Homo sapiens: one gene and its partners. The protein of the gene in region 3 purifies or fractionates together with the protein of the main gene of each other region. This does not show direct contact. Each region holds a gene or a part of one and is shown on either strand. Other genes may lie near its edges.

Region 1 (4,425 bases), on a different chromosome or scaffold from region 3:
TTCTGTAGATTAAATTCTGTTTTCCATTGAATGTTATCTTAATTTCAGAAAATTTCTGTGCAGGGTTATTTTATTAAGCTCATTTTTTTTTTTTTTTTTTTTTTTTTTTTTTTTTTTTTTTTGGTGAGAAAGGCTCAGCAGCTGATAGACTCAGCAACAGGCAGCCAGGAGCTCTGAGGCTCACAGCTGGCAGTCTAGTTCCACTCAGTCTCTACTTGAGAAATTCTTTCTTTGGAAGTACAGCAGAGGCCTTAGGTGAGTGGCTTGTCTGCTATGGCAGAGATTAGAGGTGCTGACAGACTGCCATAAGTATTAGGCAGTAACAGCAGCAGCTGCTTATATGCATGTGAACAGCTGGGGAATTAATTTGGTATGCATTCTCAGGAGCCACTCATCTGCTGGCAGAGGTAGCAGAAGAATGCCCTTAGTGTAAGTCCTCTACAACCATACACCAAATGTGCTCCCTGCGTTTCAAATTCCATTGTAGAGAGTCTCTGATAATCTCACTTATACCATGAGCCATTCCTCAGTATCTGTCCTCTTCCTGTTAGTGTTCTACAATTCCTTTCTCCTTAATTTTTCTCCGCTTTACAAAATGTCACACAGACAAGTGCATGATACTTAAACAAGCTTTTAAAAATAATGCTCATAAATAGCTTTGGTTCTGTCATAATATTCGTATTTATAAACATTTTAAGTCAATTCTCTTCTTTTATTTTCATTTCAGAAATATCCATGTCCTGAATAAAAGTTGTGTCTTGATTAGTTTATTATGTAACAATTTAGTGTGTTTGACATTTCTAACTTTTATTTCTAACATTTGCTTTATTATAGAACAATAAACATGCAGTGATTGATTTTTCTTACTTCAAGTGGATGAGTGAGCAAGTGACTAAAATCTTCTGTGAATTCTTCAGTGTATGGTGCTTGCCAATGCATCTGAGAATCTAGGGACTTTCTGAAATAGTACTTCCTTGCTATGAGGACTGAAGTTGGATTAGAATCCTTTTCAATGAAGATCAGATGTCCTGAGTAGAATTCTTACTATTGGGTCCTGAATCTTATATTAAATATTCTCTCAAATTCCTTGAGGCATAGCAACTTGAGCTTACCAGTTTAGAAACTGGAGATTTGGGCTGGGCACGGTGGCTCACGCCTGTAATCCCAGCACTTTGGGAGGCCAAGGTGGGCGGATCACGAGGTCAGGAGATGGAGACCATCCTGGCTAACACTGTGAAACCCCATCTCTACTAAAAATACAAAAAATTAGCTGAGGCTGGTGGTGGGCGCCTGTAGTCCCAGCTACTCAGGAGACTGAGGCAGGAGAATGGCGTGAACCCGGGAGGCGGAGCTTGCAGTGAGCTGAGATCGCACCACTGCACTCCAGCCTGGGTGACAGAGCGAGACTCTGTCTCAAAAAAAAAAAAACAAACAAACAAAAAACCCGGAGATATGGTTAACAAAATAGTCAAAGTCACTCTTATAGAAGTTTTGTTTTATTTTTTGTTTTTTAAAATTTTTTTACCATTTTGTAGCTGACAAGTACTGACAATAAACTGCTATAAGCATGTGTAGAAAAAGGCTCACCTTGAGTAGTTAAGAGTAAGGAAAAGGAATAGTGTGTAGCATCGTCTTAGTGGTAAGACTTAAGTTGATTTAGTAGCAAATGGAAGTACTAGTGAACCACATAGATTTCAGAAGTAGGAGTAACAGGTTAGAAGATGTGTCATTTTAATCTTCTCTAGACTTTTTCTTAATTTTTAGAAATGTAAGTGGACTGAACAGAGGAAAACCAAAACACAGCTGGTCAATAATAAGTTAAATTAATTTGACAAACTGCCTGCTATGCATTTCATAGCATTTTAAGGACTATATAAGCAATGGATAAGGCAAAAACTCTGCCTTTAAGGAGATCAGTCATTGGGGGGAAACAGAAGCAAACAAACAAAAAGGCAACATAATAGATATTAATATTAATACAAGAATTTTAAAAGCACAGAGTTCTATAATAATAGGAAAATAGAGGGAATGATTGCTCAACTTTTCTTGAAAAAGAGTCAGGAAAATATTGACCGAGAAGGCAGTCATTGACCTGAGTCTTAAAGAATGAATAAGGTTTTTACAGATGGAGTAGGGTAGGGATAACTTTCCAGGTATAAGGAAGATTTTGTATTCCAGGGACCTTTGAATATTTTAGAATGGCTAGAAAACTTGGTATTATGTAGCACAGAAAAAGTGGTATGACTGAAGAGATAGAGAACTTACCACAAAGGGTCTTGAATGCCATGATACATAGTTTGGATTTTCTTCTGTAGGGAGCAAGGAGTTAGTGAAGGATTTTAAAAGCAACATGACTCTTGGGAGGTAGATTCAATGTGAGACTAATCTCCGAGGTATAGGAAATACAGGAAGGAGGAGCAACAGGTCGGGTAGTGGTGGAAGCAGGTTTGGAAAATGTGATTGGTTTTGTAAACGTTTTTGAGTTTGAAGTGCCACTGGGGAAGGCTTTTGGAAATTTATTTCCAGAGTTCAAGACTGAGCTATCATTGCAGTTTGCTCAGCTATTTACTGAGCTATCTACTGTCAATTTGGATAGTATCTACAGTTTGCATTGTAGATACTGGATACTTGGATTGGCTGGTGCACCCTGTTTATGAGACTCACTGGAGTTTGAAGAGCTGACCACTGGAAAATATCCCTAAGCAGTAGCTGCAATTCCACCCCCACCGAGGAGAGCCAAAACCCTCTTCGTTTTCACTCTCCTGTCCTTGGTCTTAAGCTACTTAAAGCAGCCTTTAGACATAGGGAAAAATTGAAAGCCTCTCTTTTAAGAAAAACATTAGGTACTTCTGGAATAGAGAGTTCAAGAAATTAGGAGAAAAATGAACTTTTGAAGCTTTTTCTTTCCCTTTTTTGTTTACTTCATTCTCTTACTCAGTTTTAAAATGCTGGTAATGGTCTTTTTTTTCTTTTTTTTTTTTTTCTTGGCGATTTTAATGCTTTGGAAAAGATCTCATGGTTTTATCTCCAAAGGAGGAAATTAATTTGATGCCATGGAAATTAGTTTTCTAGTCGTATGCCTTGAATGAGTGAAGAATTTCTTTTTCATGGTGGTACTAAATTTGGGGAAAGCTATAGAAACTTTCATCTGGAAGCTTACACTTTTCCTCTTTTTTGAAAATTTGGTGAGAGACTTGGATATTTTATTATTTTCTGTAAAAGAGTGTAATTTGTTATACAGGTCTAATATTGATCCTTTTTTGGAAGTATGGAAAGAATCTGAGTATAAAGCAGAATTACCTCTGGATGGCATGTATTCTCAAGGACACTGTCACAGTGAAACAGTTTATTTAGAAGCTTGTGTTTCCAAACTGTTGAATTTGATATTCACAAAATTGGCATGTGTAAACTTTATTAAACTTTAAGCTATTTCCTAAGATGAAGATGACAAACTTGGAGGGAAACTTCATTCATTTGGTTTATTTTTATTTTTATTTTTATTTATTTTTATCTTTTTGAGACAGAATCTCACTCTGGTTTGAGACAGAATCTCACTCTGTCCCCCAAGTTGGAGTGTGGTGGTGCGTTCTCGGCTCACTGAAACCTCTGCCTCCTGGGTTCAAGCGATTCTCCTGCTTCACCCTCCGAGTAGCTGGGATTACAGGTGTGCACCACCACACCCAGCTAATTTTTGTATTTTTAGTAGAGACGGTTTCGCCACATTGGCCAGGTTGGTGTCAAACTCCTGGCCTCAAAGTGATCCGCCCACCTTGGCCTCCCAAAGTGGAGCCCCCATGCCCCTTGTTTGTGACCTGTCAATATAAATATGCTCAGTAGCGGGGGGAGGGGTGGGGGGTGAAAAAGGAAATATGTTTAATATTAAGACTTTGGCCTTTTAGTGTAAACTGATATTCAAAAATTTCTTCATAGAACATTTGCTTCTTTGCTTGATCATTTTTCTAATTCTGTACATCTAAAATGCCCAGAATTTGAGTTGCTGTTATAGTCTACTAACATAGAACTTTGGAGTAATAAGATGGGAATTTGTCTCTCTTTTGCCAAGACAAGCATTCATAATCTAACACAGTATTGTTGCCACGAGTACGAGTATGTGATAGACTGTTGAGAATAAAGAAAGCAGGCACAGTTGGTCAGTCCTAAGATAAAGGAGATGTTTTTTCTTATATGTTTGTGCATTAAAGAAAAAAAAATCTTGAATCTGACCAATGATGTTTTTTTTCCTTGTAAGAAAATTTAACAAATGTTTGGCAAGCTTCTGGAATCTAAATTTGAAATTATACATTTGTCATTTTCTTTAAATATTTCTTCACCTTAGCTTTGATTATGAGAAATCACTGTCCTCTGCTGTTCTTTTTTTTTTTTTTTTCTTTTGAGGCGGAGTCTCACTCTGTGCCAGGCTGGAGT
Region 2 (3,834 bases), on a different chromosome or scaffold from region 3:
CTTCTGGCCAAGGCAGTAGCCACTGAGTGCAGCCTTACCTTCCTCAGGTGGCCAGGGGGCCTGGAAGGGATGGTGGGTGGATCAGGGGCTGCAGCAGGCTGGGGAGCAGGAGGGGCTGCCCAAGAGGTCAATTGTGTGTATGTGCATCTGACGGCTCTCACCTTCTCACATCCTCTCACTCAGCGTGAAGGGGCCAGAGCTCATTAACATGTATGTGGGCCAAAGTGAGGAGAATGTGCGGGAAGGTGAGTGAGCAGGGAGGGGCAGGGCGTCCCATGCTTCCCAAACCCCGATGGCCCCCAAGCCACCCCCTACTCCCAGGCTACTCATGATCATTCCTAATCCTCCTTTCTACAAGTCAGGTTCCTGCCCAGCTGGGTCTAGTACCTGGGATGCCAGTGCTGTATTGTCAGGCCCCAGTTTCCCTCCCTGCTCTCACCTAACTTCAACCCCCCACAAGCCGAGCTTTGCCCTCCTGTGGGCCCCTCTCTCTCTTCAGTGTTTGCCAGGGCCAGGGCTGCAGCTCCATGCATTATCTTCTTTGATGAACTGGACTCTTTGGCCCCAAGCCGGGGGCGAAGTGGAGATTCTGGAGGAGTGATGGACAGGTAGGGGTCTGAGTGGGAATGAAAGCTGAGGGGTCCAGGGTGGGAAGGATATGAGAAAGCTCACAGCAGTCTTCAGAGTCCAGAGATAGAAGTTCCTGCTGTTTCAGTTCTGAGATAATATAATGGAAGCTGAAAGGGGCCATGAAATTGGGCAGGGTCCACTGAGGAGAATGGGGGCCTACCTGGTGGGGCACATTGGGCACAGCTGAGTGGAGGGCCCTGTTGAGACTGCCTGTAAAGAGAGGTACCACAGGCAGGGGCAGAGTCTAAGGGGGACACCAAGGACTCTTGCCCTTGCTCCCTTCTCTCCAGGGTGGTGTCTCAGCTCCTTGCCGAGCTAGATGGGCTGCACAGCACTCAGGATGTGTTTGTGATTGGAGCCACCAACAGACCAGATCTCCTGGACCCTGCCCTTCTGCGGCCTGGCAGGTGGGCCCCTTGTACTGCTCATCTCCACCCTCATTTTGTGCCTCCTTCACCCCTCATGGCTGGGCTCCCTGAAACTTATACCTGCCTATCTCCCTAAAGATTTGACAAGCTGGTGTTTGTGGGGGCAAATGAGGACCGGGCCTCCCAGCTACGCGTTCTAAGTGCCATCACACGCAAGTATGCTCTGTTAGAGGAAGACTGCGAAGGGCTTGGGCCTTGGGATGCTTAGGGGATGCATGCAACATGCAGGATGAGCTGGTCAGCACTGGCTTTCGAGGGAGGAGGTGATGCCAACTCTGTTTCTTCCTGTATCCCACAACAGATTCAAGCTAGAGCCATCTGTGAGCCTGGTAAACGTGCTAGATTGCTGCCCTCCCCAGCTGACGGGCGCGGACCTCTACTCTCTCTGCTCTGATGCTATGACAGCTGCCCTCAAACGCAGGGTTCATGACCTGGAGGAAGGTGAGCCACTTGCCGGTCTGAGAGGTCAACCAAAAAGCTAGTGGGGAGCTGGGTGCACCTGAGTCCCAGCTACTTGAGAGGCTGAGGTGGGAGGATCGCTTGAGCCCAGGAGTTTGAGGCCAGCCTGGGCAACACAGAGAGACCCCAACTCTAAAAAAAATGTTTAAGGGAAAAAAAAAACTAGTGGGAGACAAACCTAGTCCTGGATTCCAGAGGGAAGATCATTGACATCTAGGAGACCCTGAGCAGGAAGCCACCTTCGCAGGGCTCTCCCCTGCCTGGGCATAGACCACAGCCTCCCCACCTTGTCATCTCCAGGGCTGGAGCCAGGTAGCTCAGCACTGATGCTCACCATGGAGGACTTGCTGCAGGCTGCCGCCCGGCTGCAACCCTCAGTCAGTGAGCAGGAGCTGCTCCGGTACAAGCGCATCCAGCGCAAGTTTGCTGCCTGCTAGGAGCCCCCCAGGGTCTGGGACCCCGCTCAGCATGGCTGCAGGTACCTTGATAGCCCACAGAGAGATCTGGGAAGGAAGGGCTCCTCCTCAGGCTGCTGCCAACCCACCTGGAGGCCACCTCCCTCCAGGAGATCCCAGGGTGCAAAGTGGCATTGAGACAGCAGCAACAGCTCAAGAGATATCTCCTGCCTACTTGCCCCTCCTTCCAGGCCGGCTCTAAGAGAAAGGCCCATCTACTCAGGAAGAGGGCCAGGGCCTTGGGTTCTGGGGATTGGGCCCTGAGAGGGCTAGTTCTGTGGCTGAAAATAAAGCATGTCCCGCCCCCTACTGGTGTTGTGGCATGAAAGGTTGGAGTGAGAAAGAGCAGGGTTGTGGGAGGAGTAAGCCCTGGGAGAGGGTGGGGGGGTGGGCAGCATGGGAGCCTGATCCTTCTGACATAAATAAACACAATGCATGCAGGAACTGAAAAAGACTATATTGTTTACCCTTCCGTCTGTGGAACCCACATCCCTGCACCCCAGCTGTAGTCTGCTCTAGAGGCTGGCCCTGGTGTGGGGCTGCTGGTCCCCATCTTCCAGACAGAGCCTAGCAGTGCCTGGGCAGAGGCTTGTGGGAGCTGAGGCCACACTCAGTCTGTCCTCTTGAGCACGTGGATGAAGTAGCAGGGAATGTAGGTTTGGCCTGGCTTGTAAGGCTTGAAGTCGCCCAGGACGCTGTGCTGGCACTTACCTCCGAAGGCTGCTTGGAGCAGCTCCGTGAAGGATGCCAGACAGTGTGGGTAGTAGGAGAGCCGGAACTTACTGTAACAGAGGCCCCAGCAACCATGAGGACTGGTGACCTCAGCTCCCCCAACTACCGCCTCACCCCCACTAAGCCAAGTGGTACCTCAAGCCAGGAGAGCCATCCTGGCCAGCCCCCGGCACCTGCACCGTATAGTCCAGGGTCACCATGTGGGCCTTGTTGTTCACTATCAGCACTGATGTTGTGACGTCCTTGGTCAAGTCACTCTGTAGGTGGTGGGGCAGCCGGCATTAGCCTCTGTAACCCACCTTGGGGCCACTGGACCCTCCCTCCACCCCACCCCCACCCCCACCCCCACCCCCACCCCAGAGGGCCCCACCTTATAGTAGATGTTCTTCCCTGGGGGTGCACAGCCTGTACTGAGGATGTGGTCGTAGTTGCGATGATCAATGACCAGTAGGCCCCCTGCCCGCACCATGCTCGCAATGTTTTTCAGCGCCAGCCGGTGCTCACTCTGGTCCCCTGAGCTCCAGGCACGGGCAGAAAGACTCCATCTGCTCAGGGCCCCCAGCACCAGTCTCCCTCCCATCTCTCCCCTCCCCAGGGGTGCCAGAGCCAAGGCAGAGAGTCTGCTTTGGCAGGAGAGCAGGTGCCAGATGTCTGTGGAAGGGGGCCTCAAGGCGGGGGCCATGCCCAAGGCCACACCCTCTCTTACCTTTGCAGTCTGGCAAGTGAGCGAAACTGTTTCCAAGGCAGATGACAGCATCAAAGCCACCCTCTGCTGACTGGGGCACATCTTTGTCCAGAGTCATCCAGTTGGCTTCTTCGATGACTAGGGGTCAGGAAGAGAAAGAGGAATCAGGGAGGCACGATGGTACCAGTAGCAGCCACCTCCACCAAGTGCAGTCCTGCCTGGGTTTCTTCTTAAGACACACAAGCTCCCCGTTCAGTTAGGGGGAGGAGAAAAGAGGGATCAAGGGAGAAGGAACCCTGGTTGGGAAGGAGGGCTCTGTGCTTATGGGTTTTTCTTTGAGGGGAGGGACAAGATGCCACAAACACAGTTAAAACCAGCTCTTCACACCCGGTGTCTCATTCTGGAGCTTAAGACTTGCTTTTCAGAGAAATGACAGTAATTTTTC
Region 3 (5,853 bases):
GTTACTATGAGGACTGAATAAGCTCATACATATACAATGCTTGGAGCAGAGGCTGGTACTAGAGCTGGCTTCATGGGCATGAAACCTGTGAACACAGAACCCCATGCTTTCATTTTCCACTTAGTCCTGCCTGGCATAGTATGCAGTTTTTTTAATTTGAGATGGAGTCTCCCTTTGTTGCCCAGGCTTGAGTGCAGTGGCGCGATCTCAGCTCACTGCAACCTCCACCTCCCAGGTTGAAGCAGTTCTCCTGCCTCAGCCTCCTGAGTAGCTGGGATTACAGGTGCGCGCCACCATACCCAGCTAATTTTTGTATTTTTAGTAGAGATGAGGTTTTGCCATTTTGGCCAGCCTGGTCTTGAACCTCTGACTTCCATGATCCACCTGCCTCTGCCTCCCAAAGTGCTGGGAGGATTACAGGCATGAACCACTACGCCTGGCCTGGTATGTGGGTTAAAATGTTAGGTTTTATCATTATCTTAGGTGGAGAATAACAAATCCGATTCAATATATTCATTTTAGAAACGAGGAAACTGAAGCTTAGATAGTTTGTGTGACTTGCAAAAAGTCACGCAGCAAACAAGCTGCAGAATGAAGGGTGGAGATGGAGAGATAGAATTCTCATCTTAGAGGTGAAAGTAGGATAATGACCCAGCTGAGCTTGCTGAGTCCTGCGAGCGTCGCACGCCCCCAGAGACAACATAAGGAGAGAAGTGCAGACAGATTCCTTTGAAGGAGCTTAGAGAAAGAGATGGTAGGGAAAAGAGCATGAACAGTTGTAGAGGTAGGAGGAAAGCTGGCTATTTGGGGAAGCAAAGAAAAGATTCTCAGAGTAAAACGTATTGGTGAAGCCATGGAAACAAGGACTGAGAAAGTCTCTTGGATCTTGGCCACAAAAAGGTTATAGATGAGCTTAGAGAAATGAATTTCAGTAGAGTTAGGGCTAGAAGCCAGGTTCAGAGAGAGAAAACGAGAGAGCATTCCTGGTGGTGGAGATGGCCGCAGGCCATTATTTAAAAAGCTAGGATAAGAAAATAGAGAAGAAAGGGAAGGAAGCTATTTGAAGGGAGTGGGAGAAAAGCCAGATCTCAGTTGGGACGTGGAGGAAGGACCACCAGAGGCAGTAATTTAGCCGGAAAGAGGTGTATTTCTTTCCTTGAGTTTATAGGGGGTAAAGAGGATGGGGCTGAGATACTAAAGACTACGAGGACAACTGTTCATTGAGGGCTGGTCATCTCCCCAGCTGCACTGTGGGGTTCCCAAGTCAGACATCCCAGAGGCAATATAGCAGCGTGGACAAGAGCTTACTCGTTGGAGTCAGACCGCCTAGGTTCAACGATGGGTTAGTTAGCCCTTCAGTGCCTCCATTTTCCTATCTAGAAAATGTGGATAACAATGGTTGTTGTGAAGATTAACAGCCATAATCCACGTAAAGCCCTCAGTACAGTGTATGACACACAGCAAGTGTCCACCAAAGGGTAGTTATTATTAACCATAATCCTGGTTCTCTTGTGAGCTGCCTCCTGTGTGTCTAGCATTGGCCAGCACACATGAGGGGGTCCAGTGTTTGCTGCTTAACTAAGTAGCTTCTCAGGAAGTGTGGTCATAAAAAATGATAGGTGATTTAGAAGGTGAGACAGACACAAGGGATGTGTTGCACAGTAAATGCTCCCAGACATGCAATAAATGCTTATAAGCATGCCCTCTGTAATCAGCCCTCTTTAGAGAGTTTCCCTGCCTCATTGCTCTTGGTCTTTGGCAATGGCTACACCCACTGCCCAAGCAAGCAGTATCAGCTGTCAGCTGTCCCCTTGTCTTTTGGATCAGATTCCTTTACAGGGATCTTCCCATTGTTATAAGCTTCAAGAATTGGAGAATGCTTAATGAACACTTCCAAATTCTTCATAGCTATGAGGGGCCAGTGCAAAGGGCGGAAGGAGTTCTTCTGTGTCACAGAAATTAGAGCTGGAGCAGATCCAGCTTGCTATCCCCCCTTCCCCCAGCTTGTGGGTTATTGCAGAATTGTTCACAAAAATTCCCATTGCCTTGGAATTTGTCCAAGCCGAGGGCAGGGATCACAACACAACCTCTCAAGGGAAAAAAGGAAGGCCTGTTGCTTGAGATGGCTCAGAGCACTTTTGGTAGCCAGCCAAGGCAGCTATCACTCATGAAATCTGCCTTCCCCTCCAGCAAAAAGCCAACTGTATAGAACACCACATATAGAGCGCTAAGAATAGCACAGCGCTCCAAGAACATAGTGCACTTGGCCTGCATACAAGTGTGCAGGGCTTAACGAGTCTTTTTACTCTGAAAGCTGGGTGGGTTGGAACAAACAAACAGAAAAATATTTTCCCCAAGTAGCATGCAGAGAGGAAATGAGAGCAAGCACAAGAGAGCACCCTGGCATAGCATTCTCTGACCTGGGCTGCCTTTTCAGGGTATGAGTTGATTCCGCAGGCACCAAGGCATGCCTGTAAGCCCTACAGGGCAGACGCCCTCACCCCAATCATTGGCTTAACATTCACACCAGGCTGAGTAAGCCCCAAAAGTCCTGCCATTGGCTCTGACAGGAATTGAAACCCATCTTCTCCACAATAAATATTTGATTGACAGATTGGCTTCCTTCCTATAAGTATAGAAAGCGAGGGCAGGTTCCATCCAAAGCCGCAGTTCTGGGTGATGAGAGCTCTGAGAGCCCAGAAAAGACCCTGAACCACATCCCACTGTTTGTTGGAAGAAGAAACTCATTTGTGGGTCTGTTCATAAAAGAGTCTGGGAAGATAGTCTCCTTAACAGTGTCTGGATGTAACAGACTATGGGCGGCTTTTACTTTATAACTTTCTATATTGTCTGAAATACAGAATATTAAATATTGAGTTAATATTATATTTACTCAATGTTACTTTTTTTTTTTTTGAGACAGGGTCTTGCTCTATTGCCCAGGCTGGAGTGCAGTGGTGTGGCTCACTGCAGCCTTGAACTCCCAGGCTCAAGCAATCCTCCCACCTCAGCATCCCAAGTAGCTGGGACTGTAGGCGCAGGCCACCATGCGCAACTATTTATTTTCTTTCTTTTTGTAGAAATGGGCTCTGCCTGTGTTGCTCTAGCTAGTCTCAAGCTCCTGGCCTCAAGCAATCCTTCCGCCTTGGCCTCTCAAATTGCTGGGATTACAAGCATAAGCCAATGTGCCTGGCCTCAATGTTACTTTTATGATCAGAAAAACGGCCATCTTATTTGGAAATTATTTTCCTATTCTCAAGTGGGCAAATAGGAGAAGGTTTCAGGCATTTGTTTTGTCTCTGGGAGGGAAGGCACAATGAGGTGGAGTGGACAAATTGCTGAGGCCTTTATGGACAAAGATTCTAAGAAGAACAGGCTTTGGCCATCTCTGGATATTCCCATTCTGCTCCCTGCCACCAGAGAGCAAATGTCGTAGGTCACCACACATCACCAGTCTCTTGCCTAGCTAACCGTAACTCATTCTTTAGTTCTCCTTGAAGGTGTCACTTCTTCCAGGAAGCCATTTCTGTCCCTCCCGAGATGGAGTCCCATGTCCCTACCATTTGCTTCCAGGGCACCTTCTCACAGCACTGCATCATGGTTATCTGCTTATCTGCTGGACACCCCTACTCGACTGAGGTCCTTGAAGGAAGAGAGAGTGTATCACTCATCTGCATAGCCTTTGTAACTTAGTAAAAGTGCCTGACATGCTCACTAAACATTTACTGAGTAATTATTTATTTGGGGGCCTTTTACGATCAGAACAATGTGAAGGACACAAAGATGAAAAAGAAACCATCTGCTTCAAGGTACTTACAACTGAAATGTATCAAACAATTACCCAGAAAGTCAAGCACCAACTTAAGTGCTAAAATAGGGGTCCAAGCAACCAACTTTGAAGATTAGGAAGGTTTTAGATTCTGAATGTTTCTCATTCATTGTGTTTTTGAGTTCAGAATCCCCATACTGGAAGGCTAATATGGGGTATGTGCATACAATTTTAAGGACTCACGTTCTTACAACCTATATTAGAATTTGACGCACGATCTTTCTTCTGTCCTTCTTGCAGTTGCCCTAGGAATACATGCCACTTACTCTTAATTGACGTTTATGAAATACCTTGGCTTCATTTGCTGAAAGGCTCTAAGTGTTGAGCATTGTTACTATGTTACAATGGTTGTTTTATTATTAAAGCAGTGCCAAGGAGGTTACACAACAGCTTGGATCAGGAAGTGAAACAAGGGCGGTGATCCCACTGAAGCTACAGGGGATGGGGATTTGGGACGGTAAAATGTTAATTACCCAAGATGGAATGTGGGCTAGAGTCCAGCGTTGTGCTCCTGGAGATCATTTCGGTCGCAAAAGCTCACTGGCAATGGGTCCTAAGCGTCCTGCCCTCCTCTGGCTGAAATGTTGGATTCACTTCGATGAATGCTGCTATAGGGAAAGAACCCAGTGGCCACCAGCCAGGAGCACACGTCTTGCTCAGCATCAACTATCCTGGAAGATTTCCAGGAGCTGAAGGGCTGTTCTCTTTGCATGCAATAAATTATTCATTTCTAAGACGATTTATTCTGTCTCTCTCTTTAGACTTGATTTCTCCTAGTTTTCCAGCTCTTGAGGACTCTCTCCAAAGAATGAGTTGTAGATGGTTGGTCAGGGGTTGCGAGTGGTGCCTAGGCTTCGCATAAAAGGAGGCAGAAATGTCTACCTTAAAGGGGAGAGGAATGGGTCCTGGGGAGGAAGATGTGGTGGAGGCAATGACAACCTTTCCATAGTAAGTCCCCAACAAAGTCACTTCTAGAAACTGACTGAAGACTTTGAGTTCCAAATGAAACGTTTTTAAGATGCTAGGTTGGCTGACAAGTACATCGTCTAAGGTGGAGGCACTAAAGCATAATAAAAAGAGTGAAGTCTCTGCAGTTTGACCCAGGACCAGATGCCAGGCCCACCAACGACTCTGTATCTGGATGACCTTGGGCAAGTTTTCTAAGCTCTCGCCAGCCTTAATTTCCCATCTATAAAAACTGGATACTGCATTACTCCCAGGTTTAACCAGATAATGTTTGTGAAGAAAGCAGCCCAATACTTGGCACAAAATAGGCAAGGGAGTCACTATTATCGTCAACTACTGGCCAAACAACCAGAGTTGACCCCAAATCCCCAGTAAACAATTAACCGTAGCAGAGCGAATCCGGATCTGACGCACCTATTTGCCCAATAAGGTGCCAGGAAATAACACAGTGGAGTCAAACCAATGGTATTAGCCCTTGTTGATGGACGGGCTTTCTTGCTGTTCCACCAATAGCTTGAAGATTTGACTGGGGAGTGACATCCTGACAGTCCAATGACGCACAACCAGCCCACACTCAGCACTTCGGAGGGGATAAATCAAGGAGCCGGCACGTATGGATTCCGTTATAGGGCAGTACTGGTTGGAGAGAGGAGCTTAGGGAAACAGCGCCGAGGCAAGGCACTAATGAGCTAAAAATAAAGAAAAAAGACGATGGTTGCGCCAAGCGACCTCGGCCGCCATCATGCTCTAATTTCCCCTGAGTCTCTCTGGGTCCTCGACCGAGGAAGCGGCCTCTGGGATGCTGAGGGGGTGTGTCCCCACATGATTGGCTCAGGCAGCTCAGCCAATCCTAGCTCGTTAAACGGGAAGCACTTAACCAATGAGGGGCGAAGGCAGCAACGAGGAATTGGAGGGGCGGAACGACAGCTTGACGGGCACAAAAGCCAGCCAGTGAGAGCCGGAAGCATCCTCCCTGCGGCCAATGGAGTGGGGCTCTGGGCGGGCCCCCGAGTGTTTGTGTTGTGGTTTTGGGGGAGGGATGCGGAGGGGAAAGTTTG

What was found.
Region 1: the proteins of FAM83F (region 3) and ZNG1C purify together in Homo sapiens (affinity purification with mass spectrometry; one large-scale study listed by BioGRID and IntAct). This does not show direct contact.
Region 2: the proteins of FAM83F (region 3) and PEX6 purify together in Homo sapiens (affinity purification with mass spectrometry; one large-scale study listed by BioGRID and IntAct). This does not show direct contact.

What each region holds. Positions count from the first base shown.
Region 1 is NC_000009.12:68,269,468-68,273,892, forward strand, and holds part of ZNG1C (zinc-regulated GTPase metalloprotein activator 1C), read left to right. Parts: intron 1-4,425.
Region 2 is NC_000006.12:42,962,455-42,966,288, reverse strand, and holds the end of PEX6 (peroxisome biogenesis factor 6), read left to right. Parts: coding exon 1-47; intron 48-183; coding exon 184-245; intron 246-499; coding exon 500-608; intron 609-920; coding exon 921-1,037; intron 1,038-1,136; coding exon 1,137-1,214; intron 1,215-1,359; coding exon 1,360-1,499; intron 1,500-1,817; coding exon 1,818-1,954; 3' UTR 1,955-2,424; downstream 2,425-3,834. Other genes in the region: GNMT (glycine N-methyltransferase), read right to left, coding at 2,583-2,754, 2,840-2,961, 3,075-3,217, 3,411-3,527; CNPY3-GNMT (Glycine N-methyltransferase-like isoform 1 precursor), read right to left, coding at 2,583-2,754, 2,840-2,961, 3,075-3,217, 3,411-3,527. UniProt on the Homo sapiens protein: Component of the PEX1-PEX6 AAA ATPase complex, a protein dislocase complex that mediates the ATP-dependent extraction of the PEX5 receptor from peroxisomal membranes, an essential step for PEX5 recycling.
Region 3 is NC_000022.11:40,038,967-40,044,819, forward strand, and holds the end of FAM83F (protein FAM83F), read left to right. Parts: 3' UTR 1-4,568; downstream 4,569-5,853.